5 separate regions of the Homo sapiens genome follow, and regions 1, 2, 3 and 5 are each reported to be linked to region 4. The links are microRNA targets in miRTarBase. Many come from high-throughput screens and were not tested one by one. Region 4 holds a microRNA gene; each other region holds the end of a gene's coding sequence.
The links. Region 4 holds the annotated microRNA hsa-miR-365b-5p (AGGGACUUUCAGGGGCAGCUGU, at 3,132-3,153, shown strand). A microRNA usually pairs through its seed, bases 2 to 8, with sites in the 3' UTR of a target mRNA and lowers its output. Matches are read on the target gene's strand: a 7mer-m8 pairs with bases 2 to 8, a 7mer-A1 pairs with bases 2 to 7 and ends in A, and an 8mer does both.

Region 1 (4,402 bases), not on the chromosome of region 4:
TGGTTGGCTACAGTTTGTTAAAGATTCTTATTTAAAAGTTTTCTACAACTTTTATAGAAAAACTAAGTTATTTCCAACATTAGATTACATTTCTCATCTGTTATCTTTGTATTTTACTCACAGGGTTAGACAGACTGATATGCCTTGTCACTGGATCTCCAAGCATCAGAGATGTCATAGCCTTCCCAAAGTCCTTCCGGGGACATGACCTCATGAGCAATACCCCAGATTCTGTCCCTCCTGAGGAACTGAAGCCCTATCATATCCGAGTCTCCAAGCCAACAGACTCCAAAGCAGAAAGAGCTCATTGAATCATGCATACCATGCAGAAAGTTGAGCTTTTAGGTTTTGTCCTCTTTGCTTCCCCAAGGCTAAAGTCAGATCTAGAGTTCTGCCACAGGTCTAACAATCAAGTCTTTAGATGGAAGGAATCCAGGCAACATTCTTCACCACAACGAAGAAACAGATAAAAGATACCCAATTTTGACTTGATTTCATGCATCATTTGGATTTTTTTTGGTTAGGACTTTTTTTGAAGTTCCTTTTTACTTAGGTGTGAAAGATGGTTCTTTGTTGAAATAATATAGTGGTTTAGTGTTTTCAAATCATGTTTCTCATACCCAGATAGTAGATTATTCACTTAGGACAGAGGTAATCAAATTATGTGTGAAATGTAGGAAAATGCTTGCCCCTGTAAACTAGTGAGTTGATGGAGCATTTGCTTCATCATCCTCATCAAGAGAATCATATAAATTAAGCTTTATAATGACATTTCAACCATCAACATAATATAGTGAGGAGTAGCATAATATTTTTTAATAATGCAGAAAACATCACTGAAATGAGAGTCACAAATTTTTCTTCAGTGTTTCAGCCTGAGTAAGTTACATAAACCTCGCTTAGCCTCCCTTCCTGCTAATGTGTAAAATACATACTTGCCCTGGCTACCTCACCGGGCTGTTATTGCTGGAATCAGAGGAGATAACATATATGGAAGATAAAGTGAATAAAAGTACTTTGAAAAACTATAAAGCATTCCACAAATATGAGATGATGGTATTATCCATCCATAAATAGGTAGATATATCTCTATTTTATAGTTTCAGATTAAACAAAACTGATATCAATAGTAAAAGTCATTTTACTTATCAATTTTCTGTTTTTTTTTTTAGTTTTAAAGATATTATTGGCCGGGAGTGGTGGCTCACACCTGTAATCCCAGCACTTTGGGAGATTGAGGTGGGTGGATCACTTGAGGTCAGGAGTTCAACACCAGCCTGGCCAACATAGTGAAACCGTCTCTACTAAAAACACAAAAATTAGCCAGGCATGGTGGCGCATGCCTGTAATCGCAGCCACTCGGGAGGCTGAGGCATGAGGTTTGCTTGAACCTGGGAGATGGAGGTTGCAGTGAGCCAAGATGGTGCCATTACACTCCAGCCTGGGTGACAGAGCAAGACTCCATCTCAAAAAAAAAAAGACAACAAAGATATTATTAATCACTGAACACTATTTTCTCTCAATTATAAGTAATTGAAAATTCTAATCAACCTTAGATTAACCTCAAATGTGCGAAAAAGTGAACACCAAAACTCATTGTGATTTTAAGTTCTAATCATACACATAAAAGTTTTAATAAACTAATAATTATAAAATGAGGCCGGGTACAGTGGCTCACGCCTATAATCCCAGCACTTTGGGAGGCTGAGGCAGACAGATCACAAGGTCAAGAGACTGAGACCATCCTGGCCAACATGGTGAAACCCCATCTCTACTAAAAATACAAAAATTAGCTGGGTGTGGTGGCACATACCTGTAGTCCCAGCTACTCAGGAGGCTGAGGCAGGAGAATCACTTGAACCCAGGAGGTGGAGATTGCAGTGAGCCGAGGTTACACCACTGCACTCCAGCCTGGCAACAGAACAAGACTCCATTTCAAAAAAAGACAAAATGAGAACAAGGTCTTGATCAGTGATTTTGAAATTGTTTTCTTCTACTCAGTCTTCACTTCTGCCTTGAAATTCTTTTGATTTATACCTTTTTTTTTTTTGAGACAGAGTCTCGCTCTTTTGCCCAGGTTAGAGTGCAGTGGCACCATCTTGGCTCACTGCAACCTCCACCTCCTGGGTTCAAGTGATTCTCCTGCCTCAGCCTCCTATTTAATTAATTAATAATTGATTTAATGATTTAGTTTAAAATGTTAAATTCATTTTAAAATAACCCATTACATGTTAACACAAATAGCATGTTTTTATTTTATTTTATTTTGAGACAGAGTCTCACTCTGTTGCCCAGGCTGGAGTGCAATGGTGCGATCTTGGCTCACTTCATCCTCCACCTCCCGGGTTCAGGCAGTTTTCCTGCCTCAGCCTCCTGAGTAGTTGGGACCACAGGTGCCCTCCACCACACCTGGTTAATTTTTGTATTTTTAGTAGAGACGAGGTTTTGCCATGTTGACCAGGCTGGTCTCAAGCTCCTGGCCTCAGGTGATCCGCCTGCCTCAGCCTCCCAAAGTTCTGGGATTACAAAGGCGTGAGCCACCACACTCAGCCATGTTTTTATTTTAAAAATAATTATTTTCAAAAAAAAAATAGAAGAGTAACATTGTTTTATATTTCTGCAAATATTTTTTATTTCTGGCTTAATAGAAGACACTAGATTCTGATATCTGCTTCTGTATCCTATCTGTTGTTATATGCTGTTTTGGTTGAAGTCTGTGAAGAAAATCTGACCCCACTCATATATAAAGTTGGAAAAGGGAGGAGTATTTTAATAGCTTTGTCTGATAATTATGGATACTCTCTTTGATACCACACCAAAATATGACAAGTAGTAGAGTTCCTTAAAGGCTAGTTGCAATGTGGATTCTGAAATCGTATTGATGAGCTTTTCTAAAGTCCATTGGTGTACCTTGTATTTAAATAGAACTTTTACCTATGTGTGATATTTGTAACACCAGTCCAGTGATTGATCATTTGGAAAATATTGGTTCACTGAGTTATGCAAATCTTCCAAATGTTGACACATTTTGATATACAATATCTAAAACAAAATACCATTAATTAATATTACCACCAATCCCATTACAAAAGTCTAAGTCTGAGGAAGCTATAAGGGCACAGAAGTGTATACAAGCCTTCCAAAATTTTAGGTTTCATTTGGAAGCTTGAGTTTTATCATTGGCAACAAATGCCATCAGTTTTTTCCAAGCTGACTTGTTCTTTTTTGAGCAAATCTCTGCCAAAATTACCCCTAAAATATGAATAATCAATTTGTCAGGTTTTTTCAAACTAAAAATGTTCTGTGAAAACAAGCAGCTAGTTCAGCTTGTATCTCAAACAATTGTAACTACTTTTTCTAGGGAAAAAAAAATCTAGACATCCATACTTTATGGCAGATGTGCTTCATGCATACTTCCCATTTTGTCACACAGAATATCAAAATAACGTGTACTCAAGGTCAAGATTTACTAACAACTAAAATTCCAAAACTGCTAAACAACAGAATGCTGAATAAGGTGATCCAATTTTTAATATTTTATTTGAGACAACATCTCACCCTGTCACCCAGGCTGGAATCCAGTGGTGTGACACAGCTCACTGCATCCTCAACCTCCTGGGCTCAAGCGATCGTCCCACCTCAGTCTCATGAGTGGTTGGGACTACAGGCATGCACCATCATGCCCGGCTCACTTTTTTTTTCTTTTTTTTTTTAATTGTAGACACAGGGTCTCACTATGTTGCCCAGGCCGGTCTTGAACTCCTGGACTCAAGCAATCCCCCCACCTTGGTTTCCCAAAGTGTTGGGATTACAGGCATGAGCTACTACATACAACTGAAATCTTTTAATATGCTTGTCAAAAAGTTTTCTGATTCAGCAAATGGCACTTATATATAAAAGAGAGAACAAGAAGCTGGATGCGGTGGCTCACGCCTGTAATCCCAGCACTTTGGGAGGCTAGGTGGGCAGATCACGAGGTCAGGAGTTCGAGACCAGCCTGGCCAACGTGGTGAAACCCCCTCTCTACTAAAAATACAAAAATAGCCAGGCATGGTGGCCCACGCCTGTAATCCCAGCTACTTGGAAGGCTGAGGCAGGAGAATCGCTTGAACCTGGGAGGTGGAGGTTGCAGTGAGCCAAGATTGCGCCGCTACATTCCAGCCTGGGCAACACGAGCGAAACTCCGTCTCAAAAAAAAAAAAAAAAAGAATAGAACTTGGCTGGATGCAGTGGCTCACACCTGTAATCCCAGCACTTTGGGAGGGCAGGGCAGTTGGATCACTTGAGGCCAGGAGTTCAAGACTAGCCTGGCTGACATGGTGAAACTCCATCTCTACTAAAAATACAGAAAAAAAAATTAGCTGGGAGTGGTGGCACACACCTGTCATCCCAGCTACTCAGG
Region 2 (4,492 bases), not on the chromosome of region 4:
CCTCGGACTAATAAAACATATGTTGAGGGAGACATGTTCTTACACAGCAGGTTCATAGGAGCCAGTCTTGATGTCAAGTGTCTGGCCTTTGTTCCAAGCCTGATAGCCTTTGTGTGGTTTGGATTCTTTATTTGGTTCTTTGGACGATTTTTGAAAAATGAGCCACGCATGGAGAATCAAGACAAAACTTACACTCGCATGAAAAGAAAATCTCCATCAGAACATAGCAAAGACATGGGAATCACTCGAGAAAACACCCAGGCTTCAGTAGAAGACCCCTTGAATGACCCTTCTTTGGTTTGCATCAGGTCTGACTTCAATGAGATCGTCTACAAGTCTTCCCACCTAACCTCGGAAAACTTGAGCTCACAGTTGAACGAATCTACTAGTGCAACAGAAGCTGATCAAGACCCAACGACTTCTAAAAGTACACCTACGAACTAGACTCGGAGATAGACTTGGAGATAACACAAAAAGCAACCTTGAGTGTAACTTTAAAAATTTAGTCTTTCCTTTTGTATATGTAAGGTTTACGTAGTGTTAGGTAAAAATATGAACAATGCCACAACGGTGCTCAACATGCTTTTTCTAGGATTCATTGTTTTCTATTTGTATTATAATACACGTGCCTACTGTATACTCAACAGTCCTCTAGAGATTGCTTTTCACAATTGCACAAGCTATTACTGACTTTACAGCATAGTGGAAGATTAGCTGATGACCCATGTATCTGATGTTCAACCATAGTGGTGCCTTGAGACATTAAACTGTTTTTAACTGTACCAGAAATGAAGTGTGGAACAGTTACCTAACCTATTTCACATGGGCGTTTTGTATACAACTATTTTGATCTACACTTGATGTCTGAGCAGAAAACAGAAATAGCTAAATGTGACTCAGGAAGTATCTCTTGGTTTCTTATTCAGCAGCAGAGTTGGTGACTTTGACAACTGGACTGCAGAGAAACATGGTGATCACCTTTTAATTTTTATTGGCTGTCTGCCAAATATAAATACAGATGCAAAATTCAGTAATAGGAGATCCATAACCCAACATGGGTCACTACTCGTGAAATGTGACTTTCTCCCACCAGTAATTGAAATGAGGTGATGATACCTAATTATGTTTTCCTAATTAAAGATAAATTGCTACTTGATTAAAAATCCTGCCCTTCACCTTTGGGAACAAAGGTTAAGAGACACAGTTGGGCGAACTCTCAAATTTATTGGCATTTACACAAAGTCCCAGACAACCAAGGAACTGAAGTTTTCATCATATGAGAGCAGCACATCCCACCATTTACAATATTCGTATATCTTTCTGCAAATATGGCTCTGGATAGTGAAAATTGAAAAACATATGCCAACCCTGAGCAAGGGAACTCCTCAAAAAATCATGCAGCGGAACCTTGTCAGGTAGAGAAGCCGTGCATGAAAGAATTTGTTTAATGTCTTGTTTTGCGTATGTGTTTTTTGTTTTTGTTTTTTAAGAACTAAATATTGCACATTAATAAATAAGAATTATACAGCAGTGATTATGTGATGTAGTTTTTTGTTTAATTGTATCTTGGCTTAAGAAAAGTCCATTTACATGGGGTTTTTATAGCTTGATGCCAGGCAAGTTAAGAGAAGGCACACTGCCAACTTGCTTTCAATTTTGTTCCATAAATTGTGGTTACGTTTCTTGAGGGGGTGAGGGAGATCACTTTTAAGGAAAAATTATTTTCCTGTCACACACTGACATAGCTGCATTTTTTCTTTATGATTTTTTAAATCTCTCTTGTTTTGATCTATCTACTTTTAAGCTTGCAGCATACTGAATTTAGCATGCATAATAGAACTATGCATTTATCTGTCACTTGAGAGCCAGCTTTAATAAACATCTTTACTAAGCATTTGGAACCATGCCCCTGCTGTTACTTTTACCTTTAATAGCCATGCATGGTGCTACTTAGAATCATAAACATATCTGACACACACACACACACACACACACACACACACAAATGCAGAGATCAAGCTCACTATAGTAACCCATTGCCCATACTATCTAAAGGAACTTACCATGTATGTCTGATAGGTGGCAACACTAGCTATTACTAAATTTTGGCAGCCTAGAACATTCAACTTTTAGCTCTGGGACATGTAAATAATAACACCTAGTACCACATTTTTATTTATTCTGAAAGTCATTGTCTTATAGAATGACGAAAGAAGTTGATTTAGAAAGTAGACGTTTATTATCAATATGCATGACTTATAAAAATATTATTTGAGAATTTTTACATGGGTATTAATGGAAAATGTTTTAATGAGAAAATCTAATTAGCAGAAGTAAGACAGAAAAAAAATAACAAACTTAGAACAACATGTTTATGTGTTTCTAGGGATTAGCTAGAAAAACTATTAAAAAAATGAAAATATATATTTAAATTTTCATAAATTTAGTAACAAATGGAACAATTTCCAAGGACATTTTAATAGTCAAACAAGACTTCAGCCTTCTAAGGCTTCCAACTGTTGAATTGTATATACTGATAGTGACCTTTTCTTACCTACATATGGATCTACTTTCTTCTTTTGCTGCCTCTTTTGGGTATTGCATTTATACCAAGTAAAGATACTAAAATGAAATAAACTAAAAATTAAATCCATTCACATTCAGTCTTGAATCCTGAGTCATACCAATAGACTGAGACTCTACAGAGATTTTTGAATACCAAAACTTTTAAACTATTAAGGACATTTTAAAAAGAGATGTGTAGCAATCTCAGAAATTGAGGTTAAAAAAAAGGATTTAAAAAATTACTAAGCACAGATTCTAAAGAAAGCTTAACAAATGTGATGTCTTAATTGCAGTGATGCTTAAGTACTATAAACAATTATATTTCTACTGTTCAGTAATTACAGTACTTTCTTCCACATAGTGCAGAATTTGAACTAATTTGACATAATTTTAGTATCCTACATTTATAAAGTACTTCATTAGTAGTTGAAATGGAAAATTAAATAAACACTATGAATTTGTGCCTGATAATATACACTTAGACATAAATCTCATCACCACATGTCTATTTGTATTGTATAATCATAATTAGTTACCCTATTTTCTCCCCATGGTAGCTACTTATGTTACCTTATCTTTTAGCATAGCTGAGATCACCAGCAAATTCTGTTTAAAATGTTAAGAATTATTTCTTCTCCATCTGCCCTAAGAGTCAACCAGGTACAAATTTTTTTTATTTTTGTAGTATCAGATTTCACACAAGTAATGTCCAAAAACACTGCACCACTGGCTGACAGTACAGTGGAAAGAAGTCCAACACAGGCATTCAGATTTGAAGGAGGGAGTCAATACATGGTAGCTCACCACTGGGCTCCATAAGCAATTTTATCACATTATTTGGCTTCCCCATGGGTCACCAACACAGCCCAATATGAAATATGAGAAAGACAATGCTAATAAATCCTAAATGTCTCTATAACTGATAATTCAGGAGGCCAACTGGATTATCTGACATTCAGCTAAGACCTCAGTACCCTGCCATTGTTTCTCATCTGCCTTCACTCTGAACTAACCCTTATTTTAAATTTCAACTCATGCTTAGGCAGCTACAAGTAGGGTATTATGCTTATATTGGTTTTTCCCTCTGAGACTGACTTGGCTCACTACTCTATCTGGCCTGATTTCTTCGAGCTTTGTCCCTCAGAACCCAACTCTGACCTATTAGCCAGCCCGTACCCTTGAGACAGCAAGAGCAACTCAATTAATTCTGCAGCAGATAAACTGGCACTTTCCTCATTTATCCCCATTTAGACGTTTAAACATGTTTGTGTGCATAGAGTTGTAATTAGTGAGTATAAATATAGGTAACAGAGTCAAGCTCAGAAACGTTTGGGTTGCTTCCATTTAGACTGGCCTAGAACTGTCTTATTTGAACAACTAGGGAAGTTTAGATGTAGTATTTATAACTCACAAGTCACTCTTGTTGAAGAAACTAGAAAAAGAGGTGGATATTTATAATGAAAAGAGAAGGTTAGGCAGATGGTGGAGAACAAGTGGAGGTTTCAGCAATGAAATCTTAGAAATAAAAACAGCAGTTTTACTTTAAACAGGCTTTAAAACTGCAGGGAGAGAATAGCCTCTATGAAAGGAACTTTACCATAAAATTCTCATTAGGCTAGTACTCTTATGTGTTGTGTAGAGGACTCAAAAGTTATGTTCAACATAGCTGACTGAGGGTATTACATAAAAGGCTGGTTGGTTGGTTAGTTGTTTTGCTGGTTAGCTGGCTTTTTTTTATTATTATTATACTTTAAGTTTTAGGGTACATGTGCACAATGTGCAGGTTAGTTACATATGTATACATGTGCCATGTTGGTGTGCTGCACCCATTAACTCGTCATTTAACATTAGGCATATCTCCTAATGCTATCCCTCCCCCCTCCCCCCACCCCACGACAGGCCCCGGGGTGTGATGTTCCCCTTCCTG
Region 3 (4,000 bases), not on the chromosome of region 4:
TGTCTGACTACGAGGTGTGCAAGGAGGGCGATGTGCTGACCCCAGAGCAGGCTCGCGTCCTGGTGAGTCTGGCGCCTTGCGGGCTGTTGCGGGCGGGGTTGCTGGCTTTCCTCTGCCTGCTGAAAATGCCCCCCTGCACTTTGAATACCTTCATTCCTCCTGATTCTTTGTTCCCTTTGTCTCTTGCAGAAGCTTTTTGGGTATGAGATGGCTGAATTCAAGGTGACCATCAAATACATGTGGGATTCACAGTCGGGAAGGTTCCAGCAGATGGGAGACGACTTGCCAGAGAGCGCATCTGAGTCCACAGAAGAGTCAGACTCAGAAGATGATGACTGAAAGGGACTCGGGACTGAAGGTCTCCTGGAAGCTTCTGGGTCTCACTGGACCATCAGGACTGCTGCCGCCCCTCTGGAGAGAGCAGCTTTTTATTTGTCTGTAGACAGGGAACATGATGGGCACTGACCTCCTGTAAAGAATAAAACTGTGGGCCGGGCGCGGTGGCTCACGCCTGGAATCCCAGCACTTTGGGAAGCCGAGGTGGGCAGATCATAAGGTCGGGAGATTAAGACCATCCTGGCTAACACGGTGAAACCCCGTCTCTACTAAAAATAGAAAAAAAAACTAGTTGGGCATAGTGGCATGTGCCTGTAGTCCCAGCTACTCAGGAGGCTGAGGCAGGAGAATCACTTGAACCCGGGAGGTGGAGGTTGCCGTGAGTTGAGATTGGACCACTGCTCTCCAGCCTGGGCAACAGAGTAAAACTCTGTCCCAAAAAAAAAAAAAGAATACAACCTTGCAGGATGTCTCTCCTGGAGACAGCAAGAGGGAGAGGAGGGAGAGGGCTCTTTCTTAGAAAAGAGGCCTTTGGTGAGCCCAGAAGTTTGAAACCAGCCTGGGCAATTCAGCAAGATCCCGTCTCTACAAAAAATAAAAAAAAATTAGTCGTGGTGCCACTTGCCTGTGGTCCCCACTGCTTGGGAGGCTGAGGTGGGAGAATTGCTTAAGCCTGAGAGTTGGAGGCTCAGTGAGCCATGATCATGCCACTGCACTCCAGCCTGGGTGGCCATTGAATTCTGCGTGGATTGCCTCAGTTTGCCTTGTCAGCCAACTTCCACTGGCTGCCTTGGCACTGCCATGACAGCACAGCTCCACACCAGAGCTGGGGTTTCTCTTCAGTCCTGGGTACCCCTTGGCAGAGGGATTTGCTGAGGAAAATTAGGTATCCTTCCTAGCCCTCCACACACTTCCAAACCAGGGCTGCGGATCTGATGGATGCCAGGAAGACAGCCTTGGGCTGAGAGTGACATCACTGCAAGAGTTGAGAGCCAGCGTCTAAAGTGTCCACGGCATCCTGGGAGGTTTTATCCTTGGTGACTCTAATGGTAGATTTTTGTCCACCTTGTTCTATTTGCTTTTGTTTGTTTTTGATTTTTCTGTTTTAAAATTTTAAGGAGAGATGGGGTTTCACCATGTTGCCCAGGCTGGTCTCAAACTCCTGAGCTCAAGCGATCTACCCACCTTGGCCTCCCAAAGTGCTGGGATTATAGGTGTGAGCCACCGCATCCAGCCCACATTGTTCTATTTGTATTTCATGAAAGCAGTTCTGAATGAGAGTAAATCAGCTTCAGGGTGTACAGTGGCCCTCTTTTTTCTGCCATGCATGGAAGAGGGCCACCTCCAGCCCTGCTGTTGGGAGGTCAGGCTGGGTCCCACGGTGTGGGGTGACCTTCACAACGGCATTGTGCCTCTGACACCCTCTCAGTGCCTCTGTTCTTTGGAGACTTCCTACTCCCGCCCACTTCTCACCACGCCCTTGGGAAGGACAGCAGGAAGCAGGCTTCGGGCAGAAGAGGAATTCACCATGTTCACCCAGGCCTAGGCCAGGTCAAGCACCAGCCTCAGCAGGAAGTGCTGAAGGAGAGCTCAGGCCCGGCCCTCTCGCCTTGTGAGGATGACTGGGAAGACTGCACGAGTGTAGGGGAGGATCTGCAAACCGGGCTGAGAGGGGAAAGCAGCCTACAACCATTTAAGGCCAAAACTGGCCAGGGGGAGAGAATGAAGGGTGGCAGGTGGTGCCCTCCGCACCTGAGCCAGGTCTAGCCAGACCTGGAGGAGGTAGTGGGATGGTCAGGTGCCAGGCTTGGTCGGCGGCCTCTGTGACAGCCGAGTCCAGGGTCCCTTTGCTGCTGCCAGTTTCTCCAATTGCTCCATCCAGGATGACCACGTCCCTATGCATGCCCTGTAAGGGAGACAGCTAGACTTCAACACATTTCTGCTGCACAGTGACTAATCATGCCCCTCCCAGCCATGGCCCCGCCGCTAACTGGGCTCTGGTTATTCACGTATGCCTTGCATTACTGCTTGCAAACAGCCATGACCGTTGGGCTTTAAAGCCCTGCCTCCACGCTGTCTCAGCTTTAGACAGCTGACTTCAGAGCCACTCATCTGCTGCTCAGCAGCTGGGTAAACCCAGGTCAGTCACCCAGCCTTTCAGCTTCAGACTTCAGGCCGCTTGTCTGAATTAGAAATTGTGTGAAGCACTTTGCCTGCAGACCAGGCACGTAACGTGCTCACTAAAGGGAAGCCATAACCATATAATACCCAAGCTGGAGAAGGGGGTTAGGGACAGCAGGGAGAGGGAAACCCTGCCACTACACACAGGGTTGGGCTGTCTCCAGGGTGGGCAGCCAAGGAGCCAGGAAAAGCTAATGGTTAAAAATGTAGGTTTCAGACCAGATGCAGTGGCTTGCACCTGTAATCCTAGCAATTTGGAATGCTGAGGTGGGCGGATTGCTTGAGCCCAAAGACTCAAGATCAGCCCAGGCTCAGGCCGGGCACGGTGGCTCATGCCTGTAATCCCAGCCCTTTGGGAGGCCGAGGCAGGCGGATTACGAGGTCAGGAGATGGAGACCATCCTGGCTAACACGGTGAAACCCCGTCTCTACTAAAAATACAAAAAATTAGCTGGGCATGGTGACGGGCGCCTGTAGTCCCAGCTACTCGGGAGGCTGAGGCAGGAGAATGGCTTGAACCTGGGAGGCGGAGCTTGCAGTGAGCCGAGATCACAGCACTACACTCAGCCTGGGTGACAGAGCTAGACTCTGTCTCAAAAAAAAAAAAAAGATCAGCCCAGGCAATGTAGTGAGACCCCTGTCTCTACAAAAAATACAGAAGTTAGTCACATGGTGGTGTATGCCTGTGGTCCCAGCTACATGGGAGACTGAAGCGGAGCATTGCCTGAGCCCTGGAGGTCAAGGCTGCAGTGAACCATGATCAAGCCACTGCACTCCAGCCTGGGTGACAAGAGGAAGACCTTGTCCCCCCAAAAAGAAAAACATTAGTTTCAGTCAAACCCACGTTCGTTCCCTACCATGTGTAGCTGTGGGACCCTACACAAGTGAAATTGCCTCTGAGCCAGTTGCCTCATGTAAAACTGAGATGACCATACTTAACATGGCCATCGCAATAACTAGTGTTGGTTACCTGGCCGCTTAAGTAATTTGTGTAAGAACAGGTTTACCCCACCCAAAAGAACTGGGCCATGGAGAGCCTTCATAGGAAGAAAAGGACTTAACTCCTCTTGGTCAAAGTGACCAAATGACTGCATAGCCCTCGCAGCTTCCCCAGTCTCCCCACCCCCACAGAATTTGAGAGAAGCAGCTGAGCATCTAGAGACAGCTGGGTTACCTGCAGCTTGCGAGTGGTCCATCGCAGGACAGTCAAGGCCATGCCAGGGGCACTGGTGCTATATACACAATCTGCAGGACCTGCTCCACCAGGGCCATGGCCTTGAAGTGGTGCTTGTTCCAGAAGCTGGGTTGGGGGAGGGTATTGCACGGGGGTCAGTACTAGGGGTCATCTCAGGGCGGTTGCCTGCACCCAGGTCCCTGAAGCACTGAGGGGCTAATGGCTTCTAAGTAGACATCTTACATTTTTGAGCATCAGAATGCATGCATGTTTCTGGGCCCCTCATCCGTGTTCTTGGGTGGCTAGAGGG
Region 4 (4,492 bases):
TTTTGAATAAAGGGTGGTGGGTCTGCATCAACCACAGTTACAATATGCAAGAGCTGGGTCGTGACTTCATCCCTTTGGTCTTGGTGGGACATCACCCTGACCGGTCCCATTGCCACCTGGCACATGATGCACCTCAGTCGTCAGCGTGTGCCCAGCCCAGGGCCATGCAGAGTGAGCACTCAGGGAAGGCGCATGGAACTGGACTGGGTGGCTGGTGTGTTTGGTGATAGGTTAGCTCTGCTGTCAAAGCCAAGCCCAGGTGGGTCACTGTCACATACCCAGCACGGTGTGAGGAGCTCCTCCAGCCACTCTCAGGGGCAGCTCTCCTGACCCTGCCTCCTTGATTTTGGACCAGGCGCTTTTGTTTCTGGGCCAAGCACCTGCCTGTAGCAATGGGTGTGGGGACTTGGGTTTTGCTTTGCTAGTGGAGAATATGGCTGGGATCTGGGTTAGGGCAGAAAGCTCAGGTAGATGACAGGTGCCAGAGCAGTGGTTCAAACTTGGGAGAATCACAGCAGGAGCCTATTAACAATGCAGATTCCAGGGCCCCTTGATAGACCTGGGAAGGGGGGTGCAATCAGCATTGTTAATAAGTTTGTGTGATTGTGAGGCAGGTGGCCCCAGGATTGTGCTCTGGTTGGGTGGACCAATAGGTAAAGCACAGTGTGATGAGCTTTGGGATGATGGAATGGGGAGAAGGAAGGGGCTGTAACCCAGGGAGAGTCTGGGGTCAAGGAAGGTCACCCAGAAGAGGTGAGCTGAGTCTTGAAGAACAAAGCAGGAATGGTAATAATAGCTAATCTTGATTGAACGCTTTGTGCCAGGCACAGTTCTAAGCCTTTTCCATGAATGAACCCATTCAGTCCTCCAGACAACCCCTGAAATAGGTAGTAACCCCAGACTCACACAGGAACAGACAAAAGCACTCGGGGTTAAGTTGCTGGCCCGAGGCTAGTGAGTGGTGAGCTAGGTCTTGCCTGCTTATTGCACGGCACCACGTGGGGTAAGGTGTGCCAGGCAGCGGGAGCAGCTCAGCACAGTGATGCAGGTGTGCTGTTCAGTGGTTCAGATGATGCAGAACCTAGTGTGGGGGGACTGCTTCAGTTCTGCTTTGTTGGTGGAGAATATGTCTGTGATCTTGGTTAGGACAGAAAGCTCCGGGTGGATGACAGGTGCCAGAATGTCAGTTTGAGAGGGCTGAGGCTGGAGCTGGCAATCGGGATAGCAGGCACACTTCCTCACAGTCTGAACTGGAAGGAGCGTGGAGTGTTGGGGAGAAGATGCAGTGTCAGTGCCCAGGGTGCAGCGAGGCACGGGCTGGCACCCTGACCCAGCCCCCTTCCCAGAGGGGAAGAATTCGCTATGGCCCAGCCCCTGCCCTTGGGGTCTGAGGGGATCCACTTTTGTTAGGAGCCTGCTACACACTTTGCTTTCTTTCGATCCTTACATTGCCCTTCCAGGTGGGCTTATTATTCCTATTACAGATAAGAGAGCTGAGGCTGGGAAGCCGAGTAATTTACACAGGGTCAGGTCATACAGCAAGTTAGCAGGTAGTGGTGCCAGCAGCTGGCTGTCTTTTGTGGGGATGTGTTTTCACCACAGCGGTGGCAACCTGTGTCCTGACAGGCCAGGTTCCTGCATGGACAGTGGGGCCCCCAAAGAGCAGGTGCAGTGCCAGGCTGGACAGATTCCAGCTGTGCCGGGGCCTTGGGCAAAGTGGCCTGGCCTCAGGAGACACGTTTCCTGTTGCTGGGTGACATTCCACAGGTGGGAGGCACATGCAGGACCTCATTCCCTAGGGGCCTTCCTGGTCTGGGCCCTGATGCCCTGACGCTGGGGTTGACCCTCTACTGCCCTGGAGGCTCACCTGGGCCTCGGGACAGAAGGGATTGTCCCATTAAGGAGAATCCTCTACGAGTCTCTGATTCTGGAAGCTCTTGTTTTTTATCCTCCCATACAAAAAACAAATTGGCCACCAGTCTCTTCCCTTCTTTTTGGCCACTGTCTCACCATCTCCTTCACCCAACCTTGGTTTCTTTCAGCCTGTGCTTCCCAGCAGAGCCTGTGGGCTTGTTGATTTGAACCCAGAAACCACCTAGGACATTCCAGAGGTCTTCACACTTGTCTTTGTTGCCCATTGTAGGCCGTTTTCATAGAAGGGTATTGGGAGGACCTGCCTTCCCACTCAGGCCAATGTGAAGCTGTTGCTCTTTTGCTAAGGGCAGGGTGGGATATGGCCGAGAATTGGTGGGCGGGCCTGAGATCCATTCAGCAGCACCCCAGGGCGTGCTGTTTCTCACAGGTTGCAGCCTCTTCCAGCCCCTTTGCTTTCTGTGACAGAGCTGAAAGTCTCATTTCCTCTTTGGCTTTCCCTTTGAAATGGGAGAGAGGGTGGTGGGAGCTTAGCTCCTTCCAGGCCCATTTTACAGGCAGAGTAACCAAGGCCGCGACTGCTGGAGAGAAGCGGAACCGGAGTTCCCGTGCCCATTCCTGTTGGAATCTCCTGTCTGTGTGCCGTTCTTTAAGATGGGCTGGAGAGAGTCGGGGCAGCTCTTCTCCCGGGTTTTCAGGCCTGGGTTGCTCTTCTGGGCACTTCCTGGTGTTTTCTTCTCTTTGCCTGAATCAGGCCTGGCCTCAGGCCTGGTTACAAGAAGGTTGGAGGCTGGCTGTCTTGTGTTCATGTGTCACGCCAGGCCTGAGACCATCATTGTCTCTCTGAGATGGTCCACGCCCCTCCTGTGAACACAGGGGCTACAGACTATAGTATAGTTCTTGCCACGTTCCCGAGTTTTGGGGGCTGCTCTCCACATTGGGATTCCACCAGGATGCTGGTCTGCAGTTTCCTGCAGGCAGAAGGCGCTGGGTTCTGAGTTGGCTTTAGGTGGAACCCAGGTCATTCCTGGGTATGCCTTGGGAGGGCGGCGAGGCTGGCCGCAGCTGGGCCCGGCATCGGAGAAAATTGTGTCTCTCTGGAGACCCTGCAGCCTTCCCACCCACCAGGGAGCTTTCCATGGGCTGTGGGGAAGGCGTCAGTGTCGGGTGAGGGAACACCAGCTTCACCTCGGCTCATCTGGGCGTGGCAGACGACTGCTTCCTCACCTGGAGAGTGTTCAAGGACAGCAAGAAAAATGAGGGACTTTCAGGGGCAGCTGTGTTTTCTGACTCAGTCATAATGCCCCTAAAAATCCTTATTGTTCTTGCAGTGTGCATCGGGCAGCGGCCAGCAACCTGCCTCTCACCCACCTGGCCCTTCTGGGAGGACCGGGACTTCCTGGGGTCAGATTGGAATGTACGTCCAAAATAAGAGTGAATGGGGATTTGCTGATTATTAAAACAATTTTGTTTGCGTGCATTTTTAGCATCTTCTCTTCTGGTGGAGGATTGGAGTGGCTGAGGGTCGGGAGGGCTGGACATCAAGATATTCCTGTGCAGGTTGGAGCCCAGGAGGGTGCAGGAACTCCCTGGTTTGTGTGCAGTGAAGGCCTGGAAGAGCCTAGCTGCACGTGCAGTGCCCAAGGAAGGTCATCTTCCGGGTCAGTGATGTTAGAGGCAACAGAGTTGGGCTGGACAAGATGCCCCCCAACCTTTCCTGAGAAGTTGAGGCAGGAGTAGAGGAGGCATCTATCTGCGCAGGAACTTGCATTGTATTTTAAAATAGAAGGCAGCCTGGCCAACATGGCAGAACCCCATCTCTGCTAAAAATACAAAAGTTAGCCGGGTGTGGTGGTGTGTGCCTGTAGTCCCAGCTACTCGGGAGGCTGAGGCATGAGAATTGCTTGAGCCCAGGAGTTGCAGGTTGCAGTGAGCCAAGATTGCACCACTGCACTCCAGCCTGGGCAACACAGTGAGACCTTGTCTCAAAAAATAAATAAAATAAAATAGAAGGAGCCTCAGAATCCACTGTCTGTCTGAGACCCAGTGAACTAGCCATTTTGAAAATAGAACAGTGAATTGAGGGTCTTTCCCCCTCTACTGTGACCCTGGAGCTTGCTTTTCCTTGACTGAAAGTCCTCCATCCTTATTTCACTTCATGGATCTCCTCCATTCTCAGCAGGTCTCCCTACCCCTGCCCTATCCAGCCCCACCCTGCAGATACAGTCATGCACTGCCTAACGATGTTTTGGTCAACGAGGGACCGCATGTAGGACAGTGGTCTCATAAGATTATAACACTGTTTTTACTGTGCCTTTTCTGGTTAGGTACACAAACGCTTGCCATTGTGTTCTAATTGTCTACAGCATTCAGGATAGGAACGTGCTGTACAGATGTGTAGCCTAGGAGCAATGGGCTCCCCCACCTAGCCTAGGTGTGCAGCAGGCTATTCACCATCTAGGTTTATGTAAGCACACTCTGTGAGGTTGGCACAATAACAAAATCACCTAACAATGCCTTTCTCAGGATGGATCCCCGTTGTTAAGTGACACATGACTCTATTTTGACCAGCCAAGGCTTTTGGAGGTCCTGGGGGATTGTCGAGAAGCAGAAATACCTT
Region 5 (4,456 bases), not on the chromosome of region 4:
GACTCTGCAGATAGGAAAAACATCTTGAGCCAGACGGCTTGTGTGGATTCACAGCCTGGTTTGGGACTGTATTTGAAGGGCTCCACCTCCCCAGGTCCAAGGGCCATCTCATCGCAGATGGGAGTCTCATCACCACCTGTATGTACCGCAATCTCAAGAAGGGCTGTGGGAGCCGGGCCCGGGCAGAGGACCAACAGGCAAAGACCAGCTTTGGAGCAGGCAGGTTTCCTGGGCATCATCTGTTCCACAGCATTTACTTCTCAGGCCTCTCTCTTTAAATGGAGACAAGGTCTTCCCGTATTGCTCAGGGTGGTCTTGAACCCCTGGGCTCAAGTGATCCTCCCTCTTCAGCCTCCCAAAGCACTGGGATTGCAGGTGTGAGCCACCACACCCAGCCTCTGGGGCATGTCTTTTCCAACGCTTCATCACTTGCTACAATCTGAGATGAGAAAGGGCCTGGAAGGCTGTTTAAGACCCTCAGTGTGAACCCTGGGCTCCATGCTGCCTGTTCCCCTGACATCTGTCCTCAGCCCAAGAGTCCCAGAAGACAGTAGCAGGAGGACAAAGGCAATGACTCCAAATGGATAGGAAATACTTTTATTGCAAAAAGTACTGAAGGTACCCTAAAACCTTAAGCAGGATTCTGGACATGGAAGCCTACAGAATAGACAAAAATAAATATGTCAACCTGCCCGACCCTCTGGGGTGAACTGGATGTGGACACTGGAGGGAGGGCGTCCTTTATTACATACGCGTCTCTGAAGTCATATAAATATAGAATACCTTATAGTAGATCAGCATTAAATACCAGTCACTGTGTTTATATAACTTAATTTGTGCTGTAGACAAAGTTCTGTACATGTAACATGTGGCCATGCCCAGGCATCCCAGCATCTATCCTGAAGTCAGTGTAAAGACATCCTTAAGTGGTGGAGACATGACAGCCCAGAACCCACAGCAGAGGGAAACTGGGGAGAGGAGGGGGCCTGACCCTGGATCCCCCAGCTGGTGTCCACAGGCTAGAGGGACCCATTGCTGCAGAGGCTGGTGCCTGGTTTTCCCCATACTTGGTCTTCTAAACCCAAAGACAGGGTCCTGATGGTGGAGACCTGGGTAGGTCCGGAGGACAGACACAGGAGAGGGCACAATCCCAAGCGCAGCTCTCCTGCACTGGCTCGCACCACAGCCCTCATCTGAGTGGCCGACACAAGCCTGGAGTACGGCAGCTGCCAACCACAGCAAAGCCGCAAAAAAGACTGAGAAAACAGGAACCCAGAGTTCCACAGGGGCAAGGCCTCGCAGACCAGCCAAGCCCGAGATGCCCTGTGCTGGCAGTCATCACAGTCTGGACAGCATGTCCTTCCGTGGGTGCCCAGCTCAGTGCCTGGAACGGTCAGGGATTGAGGGCGTAGCCAACCTTGTATGGCCAAACCCAGCCCTTACGCCCCTGCTGACAAGGGAGACAAGCTGCCCCGCTGAACTCCAACAACCTCTGGGTGGGCTCAGCAGCCCCTAGGAAGTTAAGCGAGAGCTACAGGGCAGGGGGGCTCCCTGAGGGAGTTTGCACAGACCAGGAGGGGCCAAGGGGTAGCCCCAAGGGAGCAGAGGAAGGAGAAGGGCAGGAAAAGGTCCAGGGCACAGGGCAAGCAACAGTGCCAGAGGGTGCCTGGTCACAGGAAGCCCAGCTGCATGTTCCATGCTGCCCACAGGACTCCCAGCCAGGCCCCAGCAGGCCTGGACAGTGCTGGGCCCCCATCCTCGGCCTTCCCAGCACAGCAGGTGCTGGAAGATGACCATGACCCAAGCGAGAAGAGCCGCCATGAACTGTGGTCATACCAGCCAGGGCGTTCTAGGACAAGACTTCCTAACCCGACAGCAATGACATCCACAGTGTATGGACTGGGCTCTTGAGGAGCACGAGGGAGAGGCCAGGCAGCCCTGTCAGGGGTCCTGGGACATATTAAGGCAACCAGCCACGCCATCTGGCCAGCACAAGGGACTTAAGTGCAATCTGCTAAGTGACAGTGCTAAGACTGTCTTCCTGCTGAGAACATCTCTACGAGTTAGTTCACTAGAAAAGGCAATAAACATTTGCTTTAACCTTCTTTAACCAGGAAAATGCAGTCTAAATGCCCTCTTCTCTAAAAAGGAGGCAAGGACAAAAACTCAAGCCAAGGCTACTTTGGGTACTTTGAGGGGAAACTGACCATTTCCAAGAGAAACCCAGGGGCTGCCAAGCTGCGGCATTCACCCTCCTGCAGAAAGCTTTGGCAATGGGACTTCTTAGACTGGACAAATCAAACAAAGCTGACCCTGTAGAGCTCCTTCTTCTTCCCACTTCTTCTAAGGTCAAACTGCAAGCATTTTCAACTTTGGAACCAACCACCAAAGCCACCTCCTGCCCAGGACTTCCTTTAGAAGCAGTGGGACTCCTCACGCGCAGGCCCAGCAAGGGCTTGGGCACCCGCAGCTGTCTGCTTGGCTGGGTGTCAATGATCACCTCCCAGGGCCTCCCGGGAAGGAGAGGGTGAGAGGTGAGGACGCAAGAGCCAGTCAGGGGGTAGGAGCAGGGGGCTATGGCTGAGGAGGCCCAGCATCTGATAGGACCACATCCTCTTCACCCTCCAAGCCCACACCCCTGCTCATGTCCCACTGTTCTGGGTGCAGCCTCTGGAGGGCAGCCCTCTGAGGTGTTTTGATGTAAGCCCCTGGCAGGGGCCAGGAGCTAGGGAGGCAGGCTCCCCACACCTCTGGACATGGAATTTGGGACCCCACTTCAGCCCGTCTGCCTGGTCCGCTGCTCCAGGTTCAGGCCATCCTCAGCCTCATGGGAGGACCCCTTCTCCCTTCACGCGTCCCTCCCAAGTCATCGTCCTCTCCCAAGGTGGGAACAAGTAGGTGCAGATGACAACGGCAGGAGGGGTGTGCGCCGCGTGGGTGAGCTGTGATCCGCGGGGTGGGGGTGACCTCCAAGACCCAGAAACATGTGCTGGCAGGAAAGTGGCTCTTCCTCAACTGCAGGGAGGGCGTTCCCGACGGCCTCTGATTCAGGCTCTCAAGGTACAGAAACCTTCCAGGTAATGGATCCTGGGCTGGCTTCGCCACCCAAGAGCCTGTGCTCCTCCTGTGAGCCCAACGTGTCCTTGTGCACAAAGGAGTGGGGCACTGCCCCGCAGAGGTGCCAGTTACCTGCACCGAGGCCCGTGCCGGGCCAGACTGGGGCTAGTGCAGCTCATCGGGGTCCCGCGGCGGCCGGGGTCGGCCTGGGTCCATGTCATCGCTGCCACTGTCCAACTCGAAGCCACGCCCACCCGAGAAGGTCTGGGGCATGAACTGGCGGAAGATGCTGACACTGCCATGCCAGAAGGTGGGTTCTGGGAGCCGCCCCACCACGCTCCACGCGCGAGTCTCTGGGTCATAGGCCTCTACCACGTCCGAGAGTTCAAATGTATTGTCGTATCCCCCAGAGACGTACAGCTTCCCCCCAAGGACGGCCAGGCTGCCCCCCACATGTACCTGTGGGCCAAAGGGATGAGTGAGTGGAGGTCAGAGGAGAGGGTAGGGCAGGGCCCCACCTGGGGAACCACTGGAGACAAGGCATGCCCTGTCAGTACCCCAGAGGGGTGGCCTTGGCTCTCCCAGAAAGCAGCAGAGAGGCCAACCCCTTTCCAACACCCTGCCTAGGAGAACGGGCCTCCCCGGAGGCAGCTGGGCCTTCCCTATGGTGATGAGGGTGCCCGCTGCAGCGCCAGGCCTCCCCGTGTGCAGGTCGTGCCGAGCAGCGCTTCCTACGTTCTCTCTCAGAATCTCTGCAGTGGCCCTCTGGGCTGAGCAGTGCTGTTCTCCCCATGTTACAGATGGGAAAACTGAGGCTTGCATGGCTGACAGTGGCAGAGCTGGGCTCTGAACCGCGAGGCTGGATGATTCCTTCCATCTTTCCCAAATTCGCTATGACTATGTGCAGCTTACTGCGGGGAAAACAGAACGCTGGGTCTCTTAAATGCCAGGACATTAAGCTGTGATGTAAGCTGTGAGGCTGGATGTCACGGAGTGTAGGTTTGGAAATGTTAACAGACACACAGGAAAGAAGGCTGTAGGCAATATGATGTGTACCTCAGACTAACACTGCTCACATGGCCAAATGGCACTGAAGCCTCCCTGTCCCATCACTGTCAGGCTGGGCACCCCTCTTCTCAACAAGCCCAGAGAGAAGGGGTGGACCCTGGTTGTCCTATTCAGAACACACAGCAAGTGCTCAACACAAGTATTCCCACAGTGGGCTGGGCATGGTGGCTCATGCCTGTAATCCCAGCACTTTGGGAGGCTGAGCCAGGCAGATCACAAGGTCAGGAGATCCAGACCATCCTGGCTAACACAGTGAAATCCCGTCTCTACTAAAAATACACAAACAAAATTAGCTGGGCGTGGTGGTGGGTACCTGTAGTCCCAGCTACTC

Region 1: miRTarBase lists DARS2 as a target of hsa-miR-365b-5p. The part of its 3' UTR that is shown has no 7-base or 8-base seed match.
Region 2: the mRNA of TMEM117 is a reported target of hsa-miR-365b-5p. Seed matches in the 3' UTR shown: 8mer at 1,240-1,247.
Region 3: miRTarBase lists MRTO4 as a target of hsa-miR-365b-5p. Seed matches in the 3' UTR shown: 7mer-A1 at 653-659.
Region 5: miRTarBase lists KLHL21 as a target of hsa-miR-365b-5p. Seed matches in the 3' UTR shown: 7mer-A1 at 2,425-2,431, 8mer at 2,275-2,282 and 7mer-m8 at 1,996-2,002.

Annotation. Positions count from the first base shown.
Region 1 is chr1:173,857,395-173,861,796 of GRCh38, forward strand. It overlaps DARS2 (aspartyl-tRNA synthetase 2, mitochondrial), which reads left to right. Exons shown (of 17, transcript NM_018122.5): 17 at 124-1,152. The coding sequence ends at 311. Among named protein-coding and RNA genes, the nearest start is that of GAS5-AS1, 3.7 kb to the right of the region's middle. RefSeq lists enhancers at 3,520-4,236, 4,237-4,402 and a silencer at 4,007-4,157.
Region 2 is chr12:44,388,229-44,392,720 of GRCh38, forward strand. It overlaps TMEM117 (transmembrane protein 117), which reads left to right. Exons shown (of 8, transcript NM_032256.3): 8 at 1-1,530. The coding sequence ends at 444. Among named protein-coding and RNA genes, the nearest start is that of NELL2, 490 kb to the right of the region's middle.
Region 3 is chr1:19,258,492-19,262,491 of GRCh38, forward strand. It overlaps MRTO4 (MRT4 homolog, ribosome maturation factor), which reads left to right. Exons shown (of 8, transcript NM_016183.4): 7 at 1-62; 8 at 190-1,637. The coding sequence ends at 339. Among named protein-coding and RNA genes, the nearest start is that of MRTO4, 8.7 kb to the left of the region's middle.
Region 4 is chr17:31,572,308-31,576,799 of GRCh38, forward strand. It overlaps MIR365B (microRNA 365b), which reads left to right and starts at 3,104; the gene lies at 3,104-3,214. MIR365BHG (MIR365B and MIR4725 host gene) reads left to right here. Exons shown (of 3, transcript NR_186556.1): 3 at 3,204-3,352. It overlaps MIR4725 (microRNA 4725), which reads left to right and starts at 2,962; the gene lies at 2,962-3,051. RefSeq lists an enhancer at 1,059-1,678.
Region 5 is chr1:6,590,143-6,594,598 of GRCh38, forward strand. It overlaps KLHL21 (kelch like family member 21), which reads right to left. Exons shown (of 4, transcript NM_014851.4): 4 at 582-3,516. The coding sequence ends at 3,223. Among named protein-coding and RNA genes, the nearest start is that of KLHL21, 10 kb to the right of the region's middle.